4 linked regions of the Homo sapiens genome follow. The protein of the gene in region 1 purifies or fractionates together with the protein of each later gene. This does not show direct contact. Each region holds a gene or a part of one and is shown on either strand. Other genes may lie near its edges.

Evidence for each region. Proteins that work in one complex are often made in the same cells at the same time.
Region 2: the proteins of PRKD1 (region 1) and TMEM43 purify together in Homo sapiens (affinity purification with mass spectrometry; one large-scale study listed by BioGRID and IntAct). This does not show direct contact.
Region 3: the proteins of PRKD1 (region 1) and SMPDL3B purify together in Homo sapiens (affinity purification with mass spectrometry; one large-scale study listed by BioGRID and IntAct). This does not show direct contact.
Region 4: the proteins of PRKD1 (region 1) and ITPR3 purify together in Homo sapiens (affinity purification with mass spectrometry; one large-scale study listed by BioGRID and IntAct). This does not show direct contact.

The regions. Positions count from the first base shown.
Region 1 is NC_000014.9:29,599,348-29,602,847, reverse strand, and holds part of PRKD1 (serine/threonine-protein kinase D1), read left to right. Parts: intron 1-3,030; coding exon 3,031-3,192; intron 3,193-3,500.
Region 2 is NC_000003.12:14,128,052-14,131,551, reverse strand, and holds part of TMEM43 (transmembrane protein 43), read right to left. Parts: intron 2,141-3,500; coding exon 1,991-2,140; intron 731-1,990; coding exon 596-730; intron 1-595. UniProt on the Homo sapiens protein: May have an important role in maintaining nuclear envelope structure by organizing protein complexes at the inner nuclear membrane. Required for retaining emerin at the inner nuclear membrane.
Region 3 is NC_000001.11:27,952,000-27,955,499, forward strand, and holds part of SMPDL3B (acid sphingomyelinase-like phosphodiesterase 3b isoform 1 precursor), read left to right. Parts: intron 1-1,215; coding exon 1,216-1,359; intron 1,360-2,354; coding exon 2,355-2,527; intron 2,528-3,500. UniProt on the Homo sapiens protein: Lipid-modulating phosphodiesterase. Active on the surface of macrophages and dendritic cells and strongly influences macrophage lipid composition and membrane fluidity. Acts as a negative regulator of Toll-like receptor signaling.
Region 4 is NC_000006.12:33,687,322-33,690,821, forward strand, and holds part of ITPR3 (inositol 1,4,5-trisphosphate-gated calcium channel ITPR3), read left to right. Parts: coding exon 1-6; intron 7-156; coding exon 157-243; intron 244-735; coding exon 736-846; intron 847-917; coding exon 918-1,110; intron 1,111-1,334; coding exon 1,335-1,460; intron 1,461-1,916; coding exon 1,917-2,089; intron 2,090-2,712; coding exon 2,713-2,877; intron 2,878-3,500.

The DNA of each region.
Region 1 (3,500 bases):
GAAATAAACATGTATTAAAGTTCTACCCTCTGTACAGGGGCACCTCAGGTCATGTTGTGGAGTAGGAAAAAGGAATAAATTGAGTGAAGGACTTTAGTACCTCTAAGAACTCATGTACTGGCCAGGTGCAGTGGCTCATGCCTGTAATCCCAGCACTTTGGGAGGCCAAGGTGGGCGGATCACTTCAAGTCAGGAGTTAGACACCATCCTGACCAACATGGAGAAACCCCATCTCTACAAAACATACAAAATTAGCCAGGCATGGTGGTGCATGCCTGTAATCCCAGCTACCCGGGAGGCTGAGGCAGGAGAATCGCTTGGACCTGGGAGGCAGAGGTTGTGGTGAGCCGAGATTTGCCATTGCACTCCAACCTGGGCAATAAGAGTGAAACTCCGTCAAAACAAAAAAAAAAAAAAAAAGAGGAATACAGGTAGAGGCACATAAGGATTCATATCATTCAGATAATTTAGGTAGGAGGACTCCCCAGTCATTGCGTCTCTCCCCTCTTCTCCAACTTTCAGAATCTAAGATCAGCAGAAGCAGCAGGCTGTGCAGCTCCAATACTACTCCCGTGACCCCTGCCCTCCCTGGGCCCCCGAGGTCACTCTCCCTTAACGCTTATCTCTTGTTCCTACTAGTTTTTCGTCTGCCTACACACAGAGGACACCTACCCTTCCTGTCTACTTCTGTTGCTCTGCTCCTTTCTGATTCATTGCTTCTGCTTCCCACCCGTACTGCAAAGCTTAGCCATTTAAGGAAGCCAGACTCCCCAGAACACTGCTTAAGTGCTTACAGTTATATTAAATAGAAAAATAAAAGAATCAATGAAGATGCTCAAAGAGGAACGTGTACTTTGCACATATCATAGTGGACTTGTCCTAGGAGAATCAGAACTCTAGCCGAACTCATGTAATCCTTAAAGCTCGTGCTGTGATTATTGATTAAAAGAGAACAGCTGAGACCTTTGACACTTCAGAGGCCAGTGGTCTGTGCAGTCAGTCTGGCTTCTCTAACAGGGAAAGGCATGTAAGGAAAAGGAAATGAGACAGCCTGGGACACAAGTTCAAGTATGAACAATACTATCACATGTTCCATAGTGCCTATCAAACAAGTGTATGTCGTCATATTAGTCGCCTCCTTAGCCTCTGGCCCTCCCATAATACTCAAAGCCATCTGGCTATCTGCTCTTATTTGCAAGTAATCAGGAAAAGTAAAGTAAGAGGGTTGATAATATGAGCTTTGTGAACCCCAACTATCTCCATGTGCTTCAGCTCTGACCAGGAGAGAGCAACGTGGGAGGTGAGGTCTATTCGAAGTTGCCAGACTTGACCAGTTAACAGTGCAACGGTTTGAAGAACAATGACTCTAGCCCTTTAGAGGTTAAAGGCTATTGGGTAGATGTGTAGGCGTCTGCTCAGATCACATTCATAATAAACTTGCAATTCCATGACTCCATTATGCTGTATGATTTGACCCAAGGCATCAGAATCAAAGAGACCCATCAGATGCCTGAGGCAGAGATCAAAACAGGCAAAGTAGAAAAAGGACTCTCTAAGAAATGAGTTATCATCATCAGAGCTCCTGGTTCTATATCCAGTTGATGCCAGGCTTTCCTTGCAAATGGGTAGTGAGAGGACAACTACAACAATGTAGACTCACCCACAACCCCTTCTGCTGCTCACCACCCAGCATCCATCTGTGAGGTTTCTGAGCAGTGAGCCATTTGAGGTTTTAAATTTCATTTTACGTACAATTTTATCACTGAGATTTTTTTTTCTAAAATAAAGAAGCATTTAATTTTTTTCTCTCTTCAGCTGTTAGCACATTTAAGTTAGTTCCTGCTTTTTTTGTTTAGGTGGTTTTTGTTCATGATGATTTTTCTTCTCTTGCTCATTGGGATATAAGTGGAATATATAATTTTTTTTTAATGTTAGGATTTGTTGTTGTGCAGAGAAAAAAGGTAAAGGTCAAATGATCAAAGGCATTTGTTGATGACCCAGAAGAACGTTCAGATTTAAGCATTATTACAAGAGATCGTCTAATGCTAAGCGTAATTTTACTTGACATGTGGCAATTAATGTGTCAAGCAAAATGCTGCTTACCATTACTAGTCATTACTTTATTGTGGAAAGACAGCAGTCCCTTGGTATCCGCATGGGATTTGTTCCAGAACCACCGCACCACATATCAAAATCCACGCATACTTACATCCCACATTTGGCTCTGCAGAACTTCCCTCTAGGAAAAGTTGGTCCTCCTCATCCTCAGGTTTTTGGATCCGGTGAACACGGTATTTTCAATACTCACTTGGTTGTGGATGCAGAACCCACAGATACCAAGGGCCAACTGTACTTATCGAAAAATATCCACATGTAAGTGGACCCACACAGTTCAAATTTGTGTTTCTCAAGGATTAGCTATATTTATTGCGTGCTTGAAAACCAAGCAGGTAGGATGGTATTGTAGACAAAGCACAGGCTCACTTTTTTTTTGTTGCTATTTTTATGATCTTCACTTAGTATAAGAGTTTCTGTCAAAAACTGCAGCCTCCAGTACCAGTAGCAAAGCATTTCTAAAAGGTTTTGACTAAGGTACTTAATCAGTGCATGGCCCGATGCACTACATGTATGAATTTCATCTTTACTACATTAGATTTCTACCAATTGTATATAAATAGCCTAGTATGCTTAGTTAGGACAATATGTTTAATATTGGGGATGATCCTAAGAAATTATAGATTTCTCAATATGGTATTCTAATTAAAACCTAATTAGCAATTCACTGTGCTAGAACTTGGATTTTTTTCACATAGAAATAATTTCACTACGCATAGAAAGTAAAGATGTATTTTTTGGAGACATTAGAATTTCAAAAATATAAGGCAGCACATGTGGAATGTAGAGGTGTTAAAAATCTTAAGTGTGGGTTTCTCTATAGCTCTAAGCTTGAACAGTTTTGTATAATCAGCGAGCTTGCCAAACAGTATCAAAAAACTCATTTTCTTCAAGTGCTTTATTTATCTTTAATAGAACCTTCATCACCCTGGTGTTGTAAATTTGGAGTGTATGTTTGAGACGCCTGAAAGAGTGTTTGTTGTTATGGAAAAACTCCATGGAGACATGCTGGAAATGATCTTGTCAAGTGAAAAGGGCAGGTTGCCAGAGCACATAACGAAGTTTTTAATTACTCAGGTAAGAAATCAATTAGAGACGGAAAAAATACAATATTTAATATCAAATGTTATCACTGTTTAACTACAGCTTTCTAGCCTTGTTGTTTAGTCCCTACCTCCAGTCTAAACTACACTAGAAAAGGTTGTAGTGGCTTTATTGTATTATGTGATTTATATCTATATTAATCAGAGTCCACAGTGTACCAAATTAGTAACATGTTTGCAGGTCCATGTATTCAAACTTTTCATGAAATTTTAAAATGTACATTGGTTTAGTTTTGGTTCTTTGAGAATATTTAAGAATGGGTGTCCCTGTTAGATATAGGT
Region 2 (3,500 bases), on another chromosome or scaffold:
AATAAAGGATAACATTCACGTCAGCCCAGAAAGCCTGGCTCAGGGGAAGCTGGACTGGAAGAGGAAGAAATAGAGAAGGGGACAAGGGTGGAGAGCCCTACACTGCTTTGCAGGGGAGAATCGAGGACACTCCCTGTCCCAGGTTCTTTACACACAGTGCCTGTGACTGTGACCCTCACAGTACAGGCCTGGGCTGCATGGCCCAATGGCATGGTGCCAACAGCGTACAGGGTGTTCAAATAACAGGAAAGCTCTGGTGCCCAGGGTAGTTTTGTGGCCTTGCACTGGACACACATGGTCATCAGAGTCATGAGAGCACCTCCCTGAGTGCCAGCCACTGTACCAAGGCGTTAGTTACCTAATCTCACCAAATCCTCAAGGCTGGCCACAAGCTTGTAACCATTACCGTCCCCATTTTATACACGAAGACACTGAGACTCAGGATAGACAAGTCCACACAGCTGCTGAGTGGTAAAGTCGGGAATCACTCCCATGTGTGACCATCTCCAAGGCCCATGCTTTCAAATCCTCAGCCAGACAACATCCAGGATGAGCCCCGAGCCACTGGCAGGTCAGCATCCCCTGCCAAACCTACCTTGGATGTCCGTAAGGCGCCAATGATGTGCACCAGCCTTCCTTCATTCTCCGGAGCCACACTGTGGATGCTGTCGGGAGACACCACAAGCGAGAGCCCCTCAGCCAATGAGGTTGCCGTCTTCAATGCGCGGCCCTGGGAGCAAAGGGGAGTGGGGATTTCAACAGCTCAGGGGTGGCTCAGCATGACTGTGCTTGTTGCAAAGTATTAGGGTAGGATGGGGCCTCCGGGAGCGCTGAGACCCATCTCCCCACCGTACAGTTGGAAAACTGAGGTCTAGCAAGTGGAGAGTAAGGACTGGAACCCAGATTCCTGCTTTCCCAGGGAGACTTCTTCCTACTGCCCCATTGGTTCCCACTAGCCCCCACCAATCTTAGCACTGCCCCAGTGGTGGGAACAGCTGATGTTTCTGCCTGCCTGTCCCTTTCTCCCCATTTTTCTCTGCCTTCTTTTTTTTAATTTTATTTTTATGTTTAAGTTTTTTGTAGAAATGGGGTCTTGCTATGTTGCCCAGGCTGCTTTCGAACTTCTGACCTCAAGCGATCCTGCCTCCTTGGCCTCCCAAAGTGCTGGGGTTACAGGCTTGAGCCTCCATGCCTGGCTCTCCTCTCTCCTACTCAGCCCATGTGGTTTACCTGAGTCTATCTGAACCCTGGTCAGATTATGGGACCCAGACCTTGCCAGTCAGAACATGTGAGTGCGCCCTGGACACGGAGACTGATTCAGAGGACGGAGAGCCAAGCCAGGACACTGAGAGATGGCCCTGTAACTGCTGCTAAATTGATTTAGAAATATACTGTTGCATCATGAGGCCCTATTAAAAAAAAGGAGAAAAAGAAAGAGAGAGGGAGAGAAAGAAAGAAACAAACAAACAAGAAAGAGAGAAAGAGAGAGACAAAGGAAGGAAGGAAGAAAGGAACAAAGGAAGGGAGGGAGGGAGGGAGGGGAAAGAAAGGAAAAGAAAGAAAGGAAGAGAAACAGATGGTTTTTCTCTTCCCTGGGCTAAGTGGTTGGATGTAGGCCAGTTGCTGGGGCCACATTTGCCATCACAGATGAAGTGCCTGCCCAAGAAAAACACCATAATAGAGAAAAACAGGCAAAAGATGAAGAAATGGAGATTCCTGGTGACCCAGCATGAACACCTGGATCCAACTACGCCTGAGGCAGGTGCTAACCCCTGGATATTCAGGTGTGTGAACTGATCTACTCCCCTTCCTGCTCACATCAGCTGTGGGATGGATCACAATGGAAAGAACTGTGATTAACTCAGTATCCTCCTTTCTCTTTTTAAAATCTAGGCCCTTGATTACCAAATCCAGCCTCCGGGTTCATCGCCTTTGCTCTCTGACATGGTGGGGACTCTCACTCTGCACAGGAAGACCCCAGACATTTTACCTCATTGGTGAAAATTAGGTAGAAGGAGAGCAGGAAGGCCATGAGCCCCACAAACATCCCACCCGAGGTCTCGCTCAGCCGTTCCAGGAAGCCTGGCTGGGAGCTGGTTTTAACTTTGACATGTTCTCTCCGGGTACTGGTACTGGAATACTGAAGAAAAAGAAACAGTAACAGAATGAAAACTAGTTTTTAAAAATAAATTAAATTTGCTATTTATTTATACTCAATTTTTTTTTTTTTTTTTTTTTTTTTTTAGTTTTAACTGTATGTGGTAAAAACACACAGATATTCAATGTACAGTTTGGCAGGTTTCCACAAACGTATATTCCATCTGACCAACATCTAAAGCAAGGTACAAAATATTTCCATCACCCCAAAAAGTTTCTTTGTGCCCCTTTCCTGCCAATTCTCCCCCTCTCCACCAACCAGAGGTAACTGGTGGGGATGGGGAGAATCTGAATTTGAATTTCTCCTACCGTAGATTAGTTTGTTTCTTCTACAACTTGAGAAAAATGGAATCAGGGCACCAACTCCTTTCTGCCCAGCTTCTTGGACTCAGAGCACTGCTTTTGCAATTCATTCATGTTGTGGTGTTTATCAGGAATTTGTTCCTTTTCATGGCTGAGTAGTATTCCATTTATGACTATACCACAGTGTGCTGAATCATTCGTCAGTGGATGGGTATCTTGACAGCTTCCAGGTTTTGGCTGTTATGAATAATGCTGCTGTGAATATTCATACATGAACCTTTATGCAGACATGTGCTTTCATTTCCCGTAGGAATATACCTAGGAGTACAACTGCTGGCTCGTGAAGAAGATGTACGTTTAACTTTTTATGAAACTGCCAAGCTATTTTACAAAGAGGTTATTAGAGATGTATTTTTAATTAAATTCAGCAAACAGTGGCTGAGCTTTCTGAGGGCAGTGCTAGCCCTTGTGGGGTCAGAAGTAGACAGTCTTAGGGCAGTGAGGTCACAACCATAAACAATACTAGAAGGTCACACAGAGGGTCCTGTGATGGGGGTGGACTTGGTGCTCAAGGAGTGACCCCTTCCACCTGGGGTATCAAGGAGGCTCCCTTGAGTGGAATCTTAGAGGCAGATCTTAGGGGAAGAGCATCCCTAAAGGGAGAACCGTATCAGCAGTGATGAGGAAGTAGGAAGTGGTTCTGGGGGAGCAGCTGCCTGTCTGCTTTGGCTGGGTGGGAGCAGTGGAGGAAGAAAGGGCTTGGAGGTAGGCATTTCTGGGCAGGTTCACAGTGGGCCTCAAACTCAAGGGTGAGTGGATCAGGCTTTGGTCAATAACAGAGGCATGATTTGGGGTGCATCCACTGCTGATCAAAAGTGTCATCGTCTAGGGCAGGATTCTGGAGCCAGAAGAACTGGGTTTGCATTTATGCTCTGCCACATACCAGCTACGGGGTCTTGGGCAAGCAACTTCACCACTTTGTGCCTTCCATTTCCTCTGTGCATAGGGTTGTGGTGAGAACCAAAGAACACAGTTATTGG
Region 3 (3,500 bases), on another chromosome or scaffold:
ACAAATAGTTATTGAGCATCCACTATGGGTGAGACACCATTCCAGGAGTAGAAGACATGGCAATGAACAAGACACCAGGTCGCACCCTCATGGAGCTTATGTTTGCAAGGAGCTGGGCACACAGAAGCAGTGAAAACACAGGAGTGAGTCCCTCCCTTCTCATAGGGATTTTTTTTTTTTCTTAAATGGATTCTTAATGGCTGCTGGCATTTACTTTAGAGAGGTGAGGTTTTTCTAGGCAGTTACAGTGATGCGTTTTGACAACCTCCTACTTTGGCAGAGTTCTCAGCATTTCCAGGTCTTGTCGGCTGTACAGGGCAAAGGGTGTGTTAGAGATATTTCCCAACTGGAATGGGAGGCTCCAGCCTCCCTCATTTGTTCCAGGTCACTCCCTGTGATAGACTAAGCTCATATAAGGGCCCAGCCCTGTTCTGAGTCCAAGAGTTATTTTTGTTGATTGTCAAATATTTATTGAGCACCGATTAGGTGCCAGACACTGAGCATAAAATAAAAACAGAAATGAGGCTGTTCATGTGGAGGAAATGAGTCTAATGGGTTCCCCTACACCTCCAGGCCTCATTCACAGGCCCCTTCCTCAGGGAGGCCTCCCCAAACCCACTCCTACCCTCTGTTATTACTCCCATAGCAAGTGGCCATTCCCTTTCTGTGACATCCCTTACACCTCTACTCAATACCTGTCAACCCTATTGAACTGCAGGACCTCTGGGGCTGGAAGCCTGGTTTCCAGTTCTATGCATTGGCTCATAGTTGGTGCTCAATAAGATACTTGCTGACTGCATGGATGAGTGAAACTCCTAAGGCCTCCCAGAGTGACGCAGACCCTTTCCCTAACAGTAAGATGATCTGGAATCAACAGGAATTGGGAACACTAAATTACCAAGTGGCTGATGACGATCGGACTCATTTAGACCTAGTTTTCCCCTTCTCATCATCTGCTGCTTTCCTTCTAACTAGGAAACTTTCTGCTGGGAATGGGTTTAGGGACTGTGATGAAAGAACCCACTGCTCTTCCCTCCAAAGTCTAAGCAAAGTTCAGTCAGATTCTATCAAATGTGGGTTTCCTATCTGTGTCTTTTCCTCATCTGTGCTATCGCTCTTCCCCTTGAGCTCTGATGGCCAGTGGCCAACAGAAAATGATTAACTCCCCCGAGTGCTTTTGCATATATATTTTGATATTTCACCCTTTCTTCCTAGATACTAAAGTCTATGCTGCTTTGGGAAATCATGATTTTCACCCCAAAAACCAGTTCCCAGCTGGAAGTAACAACATCTACAATCAGATAGCAGAACTATGGAAACCCTGGCTTAGTAATGAGTCCATCGCTCTCTTCAAAAAAGGTACCAACACCACCTGCTCCTATCAAGAGCACTTACTGTATGCCAGGGTCTGATCTTCGTCTTCACAACAACCTCTTAGAATAAGTACTGATTTTATCCCCAATTTACAGATAAGGAAGCCAGGGTCATACAGCTTAGAAAAGGCAGTCTTGGGAGCAGACTCCAGAATTAACTCCAAAGCCCTTCCTCTAAACCCCACGACACTGATGATGCTCCTAAGTTCATATTTATTGAGCCTTTACTGTGTGCGAGGCACTGCCCTCTCAGCCTGGTCCTAGACACTTCACAACAACCCTTGGAAGGAGTGGTTTCATTTCCAGCAGGTTTGAACCTTGCCACCACTGACACCATGGGCTGGATAACTCTGTCGCAGACAACTGCCACGTGTGTTGCAGAATGTTGCAAACACTCACTAGAGTGATACCCTCAGGAACACCCCCAGCTGTGACAACCAAAAATGTCTCAGACATTGCCCAGTGTTCTCTTGGGCCAGAAGCACCTGGTTGAGAATGACTGGTTCAGAAACACAGCCAGCCCAAGGTGACTTTGACCCTACTCTTCCCTTTCCTCGGTCTCCTGCTGTTGGGACTCCCCAGTGGTTAAAGCCGACCAGAAGCCTGTGCCACAGAAGCCTGTTGATTTAGTCCACATAGATCAGCTCTTGGAAAAGACAGCTGAGCAGTGAAGGGTCGACAGTGGATCTGGATGGGCAAACACACATCACTGTTAGTCTCACTATGCAGATAAGGAAACCGAAGTATAGAGAGGTGAAGTTACTTTCCCAAGTTGCACAGCGAATGAGTTCCAGAGCCAGGAATTGAATCCAGGCCGCCTGGCTCCAGAGCCTCTGATCTTCCAGATTGATGTCCCACCCATGGGAAAGATGGGAGGGGAAGATGCAACGGAAAAAGAAAGTGGGACATTGAGGTGGAAGGGGCGGAAGCCTGTCTGGCCAGAGGTGGGGGCCTCCTTCATATTGTCCCTGGCTGTGACAGGTGCCTTCTACTGTGAGAAGCTGCCGGGTCCCAGCGGGGCTGGGCGAATTGTGGTCCTCAACACCAATCTGTACTATACCAGCAATGCGCTGACAGCAGACATGGCGGACCCTGGCCAGCAGTTCCAGTGGCTGGAAGATGTGCTGACCGATGCATCCAAAGCTGGGGACATGGTAAGAGGCCCTGCTTCTTTCTTTTCTCATCTGGGGTTATTTCCTGCACAAGTCTCCCGCTTGGCACAAACTCACCCACCCACCCAAAGATGCCCATATCCCAGAGGGTCCTTTATCAGCCCGGCACCAGCAGAGGGCTTCCTCCATCCTCACCACAGCCCTGTGTGCTGGGATCTGGAGCCCACTGCAGATGAGGACCCTGAGGCTCATAAAGAGTGGTGACGGTCCCAAGTCACATAATAAGTGACGAAGCCCAGACTAGAAGACCAGACTCCAAGTCCAGTGCTCTTTCCACTCCCACCACATGCACAGCTGCAGCCAGTACTGTGTGCCAGATCTCCAGGGGATGCCCTGCCCTTGAGTGTGTCCAGCTAGCCTGCTGGCCTGACAGCTCCTCAAGGACTGGCTCAGTGTCTCATTTGCCCAAGTCCTTGCACTGACCAGCCCATCCCAAGAGGATCTCACAGCTGGTGCCCATGAGCATGCACTATGCCAACATTGGGCACGTTGTTTAGGACATTATGCGGATGATCTCAGGTAGCAGAACTATGGAAACCCCGGCTCAGTAGCGAGTCCATCATTCTCAAAACCCCACCAGCTATGTGCTATTCCAGATGAGAAAACAGCAGCTCAGAGAGGTGATACACAGCTGGTGTCTAAGCTGCAGTCTGACTCCAAAACTCATACATTTAACTCTGTCCCCTGTTCTAACTCCTGCCATGGTGGCCAAGTGCCCAGGTGTTGTCAGATGAGTGACTCAAGGAATGTAAGAAACGAATGCACATTACCGTGTAGCATATCACACAACCACGCAAGAATGGTTTCGTTGCAGTGTTCAAGCTCTCCAAGAGAAGAGTAGTCTTTGAAGGATTAGGAAAGCTTCATGGGGGAGGTGCTCTTTGAAGTGTGGGGAGGATTTACAGAAGTGAAAAGGAGAAGGGTACTCCAGGTGGCAGGCACAGAGGTGGGAAGG
Region 4 (3,500 bases), on another chromosome or scaffold:
CTGCAGGTACCAGTTCCACCCGTGGCAACGGCCATCACCCCCCTGGCCACCATACCCCGCCCCAGCTGCCATCATCCCCCAGTCGCCATTGTCGCCCCCCAGCCACCATGTCCCCCAGCCACCACACCCTGGTGACTGTGCTGCCATTTCCCTCAGCTCTCCAGGCACAATAAACAGCTGCAGCACCTGCTGAAGCCGGTGAAGCGCATTCAAGAGGAGGAGGCCGAGGGTATCTCTTCCATGGTGGGTGCTGGCCCCGAGACTGGGGTGGGGGTGGGGCCTGGAACCCAGGGAGGACACTTGACCCAAGGGCGTGGCCTGGAACAGAGTGAGGCCCTAGAATATGAGCCAGGCTAGAATTTGGGGGTACAGCTCAGGGGGCTGATTGGGACTGGCAGCCGTGGGTGAAACCCAGACAGAAATGGAAGCAAGGCTCAGGTGGGTCTAGGGTGGGTCTGGAAGCTTCAAGCAGGACCCGGGCTACACTTGGGCAGGACTGAGGAGGCCCCCGCTATCCTCTGGGATTCTCTGGTCATGGCTCTCCCACTCCCCTCCCTTTGGCACCAGGTTCTCAAGGCTCAGTCCTAGTTGGGCTGGGCTTGGCCTGCTCTGGCTTGGCGGGGACACTCGCTGAAGTGTAGTTCAGAGCTAGGCGAAGGCCTGGGAGGGTGGGGGCTGAGTGCCAGCCTGGATGTGGAGGCTGGGGCCTGACCTCCGCGCCCTCCCCACCTCCAGCTCAGCCTCAACAACAAGCAGCTGTCACAGATGCTCAAGTCCTCAGCGCCAGCACAGGAGGAGGAGGAAGACCCCCTGGCCTACTATGAGAACCACACGTCCCAGATCGAGGTGGGCCTGTGGGCAGCAGGGGCGGGCGTGGGAGCCTGCGCCGGGCGTGACCATGTGCTGTGTGTGCTCAGATTGTGCGGCAGGACCGCAGCATGGAGCAGATCGTGTTCCCAGTGCCCGGCATCTGCCAGTTCCTGACGGAGGAAACCAAGCACCGGCTCTTCACCACTACTGAGCAGGACGAGCAGGGCAGCAAAGTGAGCGACTTCTTCGACCAGTCCTCCTTCCTGCACAACGAGATGGAGTGGCAGCGCAAGCTCCGCAGTGAGGACCCACGGGCGGGAGGGTGGGGCGGTCTGGAGCTGTTCACTGATGCCCTGTTATAACGGCCTCCTTTGCCTGCCTGTGGGTGCCCTGCGCCCAACCCCGCCTCACCCCAAGGAAGGGCTCTTCCATGTGTGGCTTCCTCCTGAGCGGGGCCCCACATGCAAGGGGCAGGGGGTGCTCACCAGGGCCCTCCAGCAGCTCACCGTTGCCCTCCTCTTCAGGCATGCCGCTGATCTACTGGTTCTCCCGCCGCATGACCCTGTGGGGCAGCATCTCCTTCAACCTGGCCGTGTTTATCAACATCATCATTGCCTTCTTCTACCCTTACATGGAGGGCGCGTCCACAGGTGAGAACACAGGGCTGGCCGGCAGGTTCCCCGGGCCCTGCCATGCTTCCTCCCTGGGTTGGGGCAGAGCCTTGAGGCCAGCTGGCCTCTGAGGGCACCAGATGCAGAGTGTGCAGAAGCACCCCCTGCGCCATCCTGTGGGCTCTCGCCCCATCATGGAGACACAGGTGCGGTCAAAGGGGATGGTCAGGGTCTTTGACCTCATGGGAGATGGCGCATGCAGGCACGTGCACACGCATAGATGTGTCAGCCAGAAACAAAACCTGGTAGCCGCAGCCGGACAGGGCCTCCCGCTTAGGCCTGAGAGGCAGGTGTAATGGAGGAGGCTAAAACCAGGCACCAGGAACTTAACCGGGAAGGCGGCCAGGAGAAGGTGGCTTTTCGGCACCTGTTGGACCTGCTCTGGGGCCGTGGTGGGCTTGAGGGAGCCCTGCTCACCCTGCCCCTGGCCCCCAGGCGTGCTGGACTCCCCTCTCATCTCATTGCTCTTCTGGATCCTCATCTGCTTCTCCATCGCGGCCCTGTTCACCAAGCGCTACAGCATCCGCCCCCTCATCGTGGCGCTCATCCTGCGCTCCATCTACTATCTGGGCATCGGGCCCACACTCAACATCCTGGGTGCCCTCAATGTGAGTGCCAGAGGGAGCCCCCATTCCCAAACAAGCTCATGCTCACTGTGCATTCAGACGGCAAGCTGGCCTGCTGCTTCCAGGAGCCACTGCTCTGTCCCATCCCCTCCTCTCTGTTGGGCTCCCAAGTTCCTTATAGACCGGTGGCAGGGACTGTTCTGTACCTTCTTCCTTTCCCTCAACACCTGAGGGCAGCTGGCACTCAGAGACAGAAATTCAAGAGTCCCTTTGGAGCAACAGGGTCAGGGTGGCTGTGCACACTGTGCGGGCTGTGCACTGCCCAGAGGCACTGCTACGCGGCAGACGTGAAGATTCATACATAATGACAATCTCCTGACAGATGGAAATAAAGTGCTTTGAGCGAGGAATACCTTTCCCTGATAGAGCCAGTCAGTGGTCTTCTCTGTCCCCATCCTCCGTTGCCTGTACCTCACTGTCTTCCTGGAACTGAGGACCCAAGGGGCTGCCTCTGTATTCTGAGTCCCAGGCGCCTAGATGCGTTTCTGGAAGCAATTTCATTAATGCCATGCCTCCCAGGCTCTGAGCTGGGCACTGGGGGACATGCGTGCAGATTCAGCATAGGTGGTAGGGTGCTGACTCTCATGCCTTGCACTCGCCCCCAGCTGACCAACAAGATCGTGTTTGTGGTGAGCTTCGTGGGCAACCGTGGCACCTTCATCCGGGGCTATAAGGCCATGGTCATGGACATGGAATTCCTCTACCACGTGGGCTACATCCTGACCAGTGTCCTGGGCCTCTTTGCTCATGAGCTGTTCTACAGCATCCTGGTGAGGCCTTCTGGGTGGGCTGGGGCTGGATGGGGGCATGGGGTGGTTGGGGCTTCCCATGAGTTGTTGGCAGTTCCCCGGCACCAGTCTGTCTGTCCAGTCCTTTTGCTGCTGGGCTGGGAGCAGTGAAATTACAGAGTCTTCATCTGCCTGACCCAAGCCTGGCCCTCAAGGCCCTGATGGCCACTCCTGGTGGCCATCTGACCCCTTTCTCCTGTACAGTGGTGGTTCAAGCCTGGACTCTGGAGCTGGACCAGGGCTTTGCATCTCAGCTGGGCTACTACTAGCTGTGTAACTGGGCAAGTTTCTTAACTGCCCCATGCCTCAGTTTCCTCACCTGTAAAATGGGGATAACAACAGCCCCTGCATTCTAAAATAATTGTGAGATGAAATGAGCTAATGCATGGAAAGCACTTACACTGTTTCCTGGCATGCAGCAAGTACATTTTAAGAGTTGGCTGGTATTCAGCCACCCGTTTCACCCCTCGTGCCTTCCCCTGGGCCACTCCCTTTCTGTGACCTTAGAATTCCAGGTTTCTCGAGAAGCTCCCCTGACAGGCCCACCCAGCTTGGATACGACTAAGTGCAGACCTCCCTGGAGGAGCCTTGGGAAACTGTCTGGA